Homo sapiens: one gene and its partner. The protein of the gene in region 2 purifies or fractionates together with the protein of the main gene of each other region. This does not show direct contact. Each region holds a gene or a part of one and is shown on either strand. Other genes may lie near its edges.

What was found. The genes of interacting proteins can lie anywhere in the genome.
Region 1: the proteins of EEFSEC (region 2) and RNF214 purify together in Homo sapiens (affinity purification with mass spectrometry; one large-scale study listed by BioGRID and IntAct). This does not show direct contact.

Annotation. Positions count from the first base shown.
Region 1 is NC_000011.10:117,242,671-117,246,170, reverse strand, and holds part of RNF214 (RING finger protein 214), read right to left. Parts: intron 1,727-3,500; coding exon 1,586-1,726; intron 1-1,585.
Region 2 is NC_000003.12:128,341,981-128,345,480, reverse strand, and holds part of EEFSEC (selenocysteine-specific elongation factor), read right to left. Parts: intron 1-3,500. UniProt on the Homo sapiens protein: Translation factor required for the incorporation of the rare amino acid selenocysteine encoded by UGA codons. Replaces the eRF1-eRF3-GTP ternary complex for the insertion of selenocysteine directed by the UGA codon.

The DNA.
Region 1 (3,500 bases), on a different chromosome or scaffold from region 2:
CAACATACAGAGATCTTGTCTCACAAAAAATAAAAAAAATTAGCCAGGTGTGGTGGCACATGCCTGTAGTCCAGATACTCGAGAGGCTGAGGTGGAAGGATAGCTCGAGCCCAGAAAGTCAAAGATACGGTGAGCCTTGATTGTACCCACTACACTCCAGTCTGGGCAACAAAACAAGATCCAGTATCAAAAAAAAAGTAAAATAATACAAAGGTGATAAAGAGTCACTCCCCCACTTCATACCACTTCCACCCATAAGAGTAATCAATGTGTTAACTGCTTTGTATTATGCTTTCACATCTTTCTCTATGCTCACACAAAGACATGTATACTTAGGTATGCATTTCTTTGTTGTTGTTGTTGTTGTTATTTTTAAATGGGGTCATTTTACATACATTATTTTGCATTCTGATTTCTTTTACTTGACATGAATGTATTGTCAATAAGTATCGATCTAATTCAAAAATAGCTGCATAACATATGGATGTATCTAATTTATCCGAACATTCTTTATTAAAAGTCTATGAGTGGTCTGGCGCAGTGGCTCACGCCTGTAATCCCAGCACTTTGGGGGGCCGAGGCAGGTGGATCATGAGGTCAGGAGATCGAGACCATCCTGGCTAACATGGTGAAACCCCGTCTCTATTAAAAAAAATACAAAAAATTAGCCGGGCGTAGTGGCGGGCGCCTGTAGTCCCAGCTACTTGGGAGGCTGAGGCAGGAGAATGGCGTGAATCCAGGAGGCGGAGCTTGCAGTGAGCCGAGATTGTGCCATTGCACTCCAGCCTGGGTGACAGAGCGAGACTCCGTCTCAAAAAAAAAAAAAAGTCTATGAGTATTAATACTTTTTTTGAGACAGGGTATCGTTCTGTCACTCAGGCTGGAGTGCAGTGGCACAATTTCGGCTCACTGCAACCTCTGCCTCCTGGGTTTAAGCGATCCTCCCACCTCAGCCTCCCATGTAGCTGGGACCACAGGTGCACACCACCACGCCCGGCTCATTTTTTGTATTTTTGGTAAAGATGGGATTTTGCCATGTTGCCCAGGCTGGTTCGAACTCCTGGACCCAACTGATCCACCCGCCTCAACCTCTCAAAGTGTTGGGATTACAGGTGTGAGCCACCACACCCCGCCTTGCCTTTTTATTTCAATTAACTCAAAAATAAAATTAAAGTTTGAGCCGGGCATGGATGGCTCAAACTTTAATTTTATTTTTGAGTTAACTGAAATAAAAAGGCCTCCTTTCGGAGGCCAAGGCGGGTGGATTTCTTGAGTCTGGAGTTCAAGACCAGCCTGGGCAACATGACAAAACCCCGTCTCTACCAAAAATACAAAAAATGAGCCAGGCATAGTGGCACACACCTGTGTTCCCAGCTACTTGGGAGGCTGAGGTGGGAAGATCACTTAAGCCCAGGAGACAGAGGCTGCAGTGAGCCAAGATTATGCTACCACATTCCAGCCTGAGTGACAGAGTGAGACTCTGTCTCAAAAATAAATAAATAAATAAATAAAGTTTTTTAAAAAATTAAAGTTTGATCAGAGACTGTTGCTTAACTCATTGACAATTTCAATATAAGCAAAATACCTGGTGATTCTTCATTTCCTCTTCTCTCCTTTGCTGAAGCTGCTTTAATTGCACTTGGAGCTGATTCTCCACTTGCCTCTGTTTGTCCAGGACCTCCTGGTAACGCTCTTTCAACAGGGTTCTCTCTGTCATCATTTTATCCTATTATGAACAAGACAAGAAAAGCTTATTTCCTAATTTAATCACAAGAAACATTCACCAGTGCCTGTCCAAGGCATTGTATAGAGCTCTATGACCGCACTATCCAATAATGAAGCTACTCTACTAGCCATATGTGGCTATATTCAGTAAAATATGATGAGATTGGCTGGGGATGGTGGCTCACACCTATAACTGTAGTACTTTGGGAGGCTGAGGCGGGCGGATCACTTGCATTCAGGGATTCGAGACCAGCTTGGGCAACATGGCAAAACCTGGACTCTAAAAAAATACAAAAATTAGCTGGGCATGCCAGTACTCCACTGTAGTCCCAGCTACTTGGGAGGCTGAGGTGGGATGATCGCTTGAGCCTGGGAGGCAGAGGTTACAGTGAGCTGAGATCGTGCCACTGCACTTTAGCCTAGGCGACAGAGCAAGACTCTGTCTCAAAAAAGCGTCCGGGAACATGATTCCTTACTGGTTAACAACACTGAAAACTGATGGATCCACTAAAGAGGCCTGGGAACCTGGTATTCAGACTGAACAACTCAGCAAGCTTTCATATAAAGTCGGGATTAGAAGAGAGACTCCTAGGCAAGGCACGGTGGCTCCAGCCTATAATCTCAGCTTTGAGGGGCCAAGGCAGGAAGACTGCTTGAGGCCAGAAGCTGAAGACCAGCCTGGGCAACATAGTAATACCTGGTCTCTACCAAAAAATAACAATAATAAATAAATAAATAGAAGTGCTTCTGAAAACAGTTTAGCTCTGCCACCCCCATGTCAGTAAATCAAGAAAATCAATGGTTACCTTTCAAAGGGACACTAAAATTTGAAGAGGGTCAACTTAAAACACATTTAGTATGAAGTAGCCCATATAATATTTAAACTGAGAGCACTAAACTGAATTTTTTCATTAAATAATAACCATTTTCAAAGAAAAAAAATTTTTAAAACAAATGAGGAAAATATCCTATTATAATCATTTTAACAAAAGGCTCTCAAGGCTGGGCGCAGTGGCTCACGCCTGTAATCCCAGCACTTTGGGAAGCTGAGGCGGGTGGATCACTTGAGGTCAGCAGTTCGAGACCAGCCTGGCCAACACAGTGCAATCCCATCTCTACTAAAAATACAAAATTAGCCAGGCATGGTGGCACATGCCTGTAATCCCAGCTACTTGGGAGGCTGAGGCAGGAGAATCACTTGAACCTGGTAGGCAGAGGTTGCAGTGAGCAGAGACTGTGCCCCTGCAGTCCAGACTGGGTGACAGAGCGAGACTCCGTCTCAAAATAAATAAATAAATTAATTAATTAATTAATAAAAAAGGCTCTCAAGATAGGACCTTGGCTTTGGGACAAGCTAATCTTTAGTCCATGTACTGAAATGTGACTAATGTGTCCCAAACAGCTGATTACTCAGCATCACACCTTTCCAGGGATTCTGAACCTGGCTTCTACAGGTGGACCCCGGAATCTTTGAACTCTCTGCAACTGATGAATGTATATATTTTTCTGAGATAAGAATTCAAAGTTTCCAAAAGATTCTGAAAGAGGATCTTAACCAAAGAAAAGTTGAAACCAGTAGATTATTCTTTTCTGAGACAGAGTCTCACTCTGTCGCCCAGGCTAGAGTGCAGTGGTGCAATCTCGGCTTACGGCAACCTCCGCCTCCCGAGTTCAAGCAATTCTCTCTGCCTCAGCCTCCAGAGTAGTTGGGATTACAGGCACCCGCCACCACGTTCGGCTAATTTTTGTATTTTTAGGAGAGATGGGGTTTTGCC
Region 2 (3,500 bases):
GCACGGTGGGGAAAGAAGAGCATAGGGCACTTCTCTGGCCCCTGCGCTGGATAACCACACCCATGAGCCTACCAGACTCTCAGCCCCTCCCTCTTCAACCAAAACTGTGTGGCTCCTGATAGGGACCAGGGGGATTGGCTCCTGTGCTTCAAAGAGAAATAATGGAGTCCCAGGGAAAAGAGTGGACCCACGCTCCAGGCATTATTATTTTGACTCTAAGAGCTTAAACATTAATAATGATAAAACAATAACGATGCAGTAGGAGACAAGCACTGATCTCAGAACCTTATGTGCAATCCCCCATCTCACCTTCATCTAACCCTGGTGCAGCACTGTGAAAATTCCCACTTAACATGGAAGTCTCATGGTCTGCTCAACTTTTCACACTAGCAGGTGGTAAGGCTGGGAGTAAATAAAGCCCAGGCTTGCACATTGGACCAGTCTGTCGGATGGCTGAGCCCCTGGTCAAGCAAGATGACCTGAAAATCTCTGGGTGATCTGGGGCCTACTCAAAGCAAACAGGGCTGCCCCTTTGGAACAAACTCAGCCAATCACTCAGGAGCTGCAACAGGAACACTACCTTCTTGCTTCACCTGATGAGAGTCGGCTCTTACATATGAAGCCACAAGCTATGGTGGCTCTTTCAAAACAACCTGATGAGGTCAAGACCATCCTTCGAAGGAATGAACAATTGAGATTAAATGGCTGCCCAAGGCGTACAGCTGTTTTGGGTACAGCAAGGGCTTGAGCCTACTCTGTATGATCTCCAAGTTCCACCTTACCAGGAAGGAAAGTCTCCCACCAAGGAGATTCGAGCTTTTCAAGAGAACGCAGACTCTTTTGACACACTGGGCAAGAATCTGTCTGACAAAGTGGAAATTTCATGACTCAAAAGAGACCAGCTAGTCCTGAGTTCAAACTCCAGCTTTACTACCCTGTGACCTTGGGCAGGTCACTTCACATTTCTTGGGCTGGTTTCCAGTCTGGCTGCCTTTGGGGAGGGGACCTGGGTTCGTAGGAAGAAAACTTCCTTACACTGAATAATTATTGTCTTGTTTGAAATTTTTTACCATGTGCATATATTACTTTTCCTAAATATTTGCACATAATTTGATTGATTTAATTGGGGAAAAATGTACATAGGAAAAATAATGACCTCTTCCTCAGGGTTATTAAACGGTTTCAAAATAAAGTATGTAGCTAGTAAAGGCGCATAGTATATGCTTAATCAGTAGAGTGGTGACAGAGTGGAGGGAGGCAGGAGGCAGGCTCATTCCTGCCCTGGGGCCCAGAGGAGAGCATGTGGCACAGAAGCCCCAGCCTACAGCCAGCCCCTAGCATTAAGGCAGGTGCCCATTCAGCTAGAGCCTCAGGGGGTTGCGAGTTGGGGGAGCTGCTCCTAGCCTGGGCACCCATGCCCTTTCCTCCCTTGTGGAGCCTCAGGAAGGCCTTCTTCCTCGACCAAAGCCCTGGGCTCATAGGATCTCACCTCTGCACACATCCACAGTCACCCTGTGAGGCTGTCCCTGGTTGGAGGAAGCCTGTCTCTGCTCAGGGTTGTCTATATGGGATTTGGACTCAGCTTCTGTGGACTGCCTACAGTTCTTGTGCTTCCACTTCCAGCCTCCCTGGACTGAGCAGGAAAATGCTGGTGGCCCCAGGTTGGTGGAAGGACATAGGCCAGGCATGTCTCCTGGCCCCTCCCTCAGCCCTTCGGAGGCATGAGTCATTGAGGCCATATGTTTACTTGCTCCTCACAGACCCTCCCTCCCAGTTCTCAAAGGAAGTGACTGCTGCACCGCTGTTGACAGGCCTGAGTGGGAGCAATTAGACCCAGGAGCCACACCAATTGGGATATTACTCTCTCATAGATATTTTACTATAGAATAATTATACTCCAAACACTGCTAATAAATCAGGCTAGACAAACGAGTGACACACACTTTATCACCTTCATCTTCAATCAGCATCTTGGGGCTGGCCTAAGGCTGATGGAGCCCTGAGCAGGCCCCAGCGGCCCCCCCGGAGCTAAGGGTCCAAGCTCTGGGTCTGAGGAAGGGAGAGGAAGGGGTTGCTCCTCAGTCCCCCACTTGAGGGCAGGTCTAGGTACAGGGGCAGGAAAAGAAGAGGGCCAGGGTGGAGCACCCAGGAAGAACCTAAGACAAGGAGAAAGGGAGGGGAAGGGGCTGCAGTGACAGAGAATTCCAGACGAGAAAACCAGTGGATTTTCTCCCAGAGGAGAAAACCTGTGGACGGAGACCTGGAGCGGAGGGTGGGCGATGGAAGCCCACCACATGTGACACCGTGGATGGGCCAGATGTTGTGCTGGCACCTGCACTAAACCCAGGGGACCTCATCAGGCTCCTGTGAGGAACTGAGGCCCTTGTTGAAAGCCTCAGGGCAGACCCCTCCTGCTAGGAGCCTGAGCCCCCGACAGTGGGGTTGCCAGCACTCCGTGCTCTTTAAGCCAGTCAAAGCCCAGTCATGTCCCAGTACAGCTGCTGCTGATCCGCTTGGACCCACAGCCAGGGAGCTAGCCTTCTAGAAGAGACGGCAAGGTTTGGCTGTCCATCCATCCTGCCTTCAAGGCCCGATGGGCATGGATTCCCACTCAGCACTGTGTGGACAGCTGCTGGGGATGGATGCCCCATGGGAGGAGGTGATTCCACTACTTTGGGGGAGACCACCGTGTTCTGTCCACCCTAGTGGCAGGCCCATCCCACCCAGCACTGGGCCCAGGTGCTGATGCACCACAGGACCAGCCGAGGGAGGCCCAGGGCCCAGTCAGAGTCTCCTGGGACAGAGCAGGCACCACCCTGAAAGCACAAGGCCAAGGGCCGCCCAGCAAGGCACAGCCAGGGCCTCATCCTACTTCAACTAGACTGGCTCACCTACATGCCTAAGGCCTGCATCTAGCGATGGTGAACTTCAGGCACCCTAGGTAGCCAGGGGCTGGACCTCCCACTGTGTCAGCTTCCTGTACCTTCCTTCCTCTTGCTCTCTGGCACCCTTAGCCCCTTCCCCTCAGTCCACAGGTGAGGAAAGACCTGGCCACCATTAGCCCCTTCCCCTCAGTCCACAGGTGAGGAAAGACCTGGCCTGGCACCACTGATGGGCAGTGTTTCCCTCTGGACATAAGCAGCTTGCAGGGGCACATGGGCAGATCCCAGCTGGATGGAGGTACAGTGCCCACCAAGGTCAAGAGAGTGGGGCCTGATCAGGGCAGCAGGCCAGGGAAGCCAGTGCTAACCGCTGCCATCTGACACTGGCTGTGGGGGAGCCCAGACCTGCTCAGACCCATGGGTGCCACATCTACCATGTAAATAAGTGGGGGTGGGATAGCTGGGTGGGATTGGGTACAGTGGGGGTCCCCCTGCCCAGGTGCTGGCCCTGGCTCTGTGACTGACCAGCTGAGAGAACTGTGGCCACCTGACCATTCTGGGCATCAGATGCCTTGTACAGAAACTACAGAGGTTGGCACCAGAAGGTCTCTGAGGGCC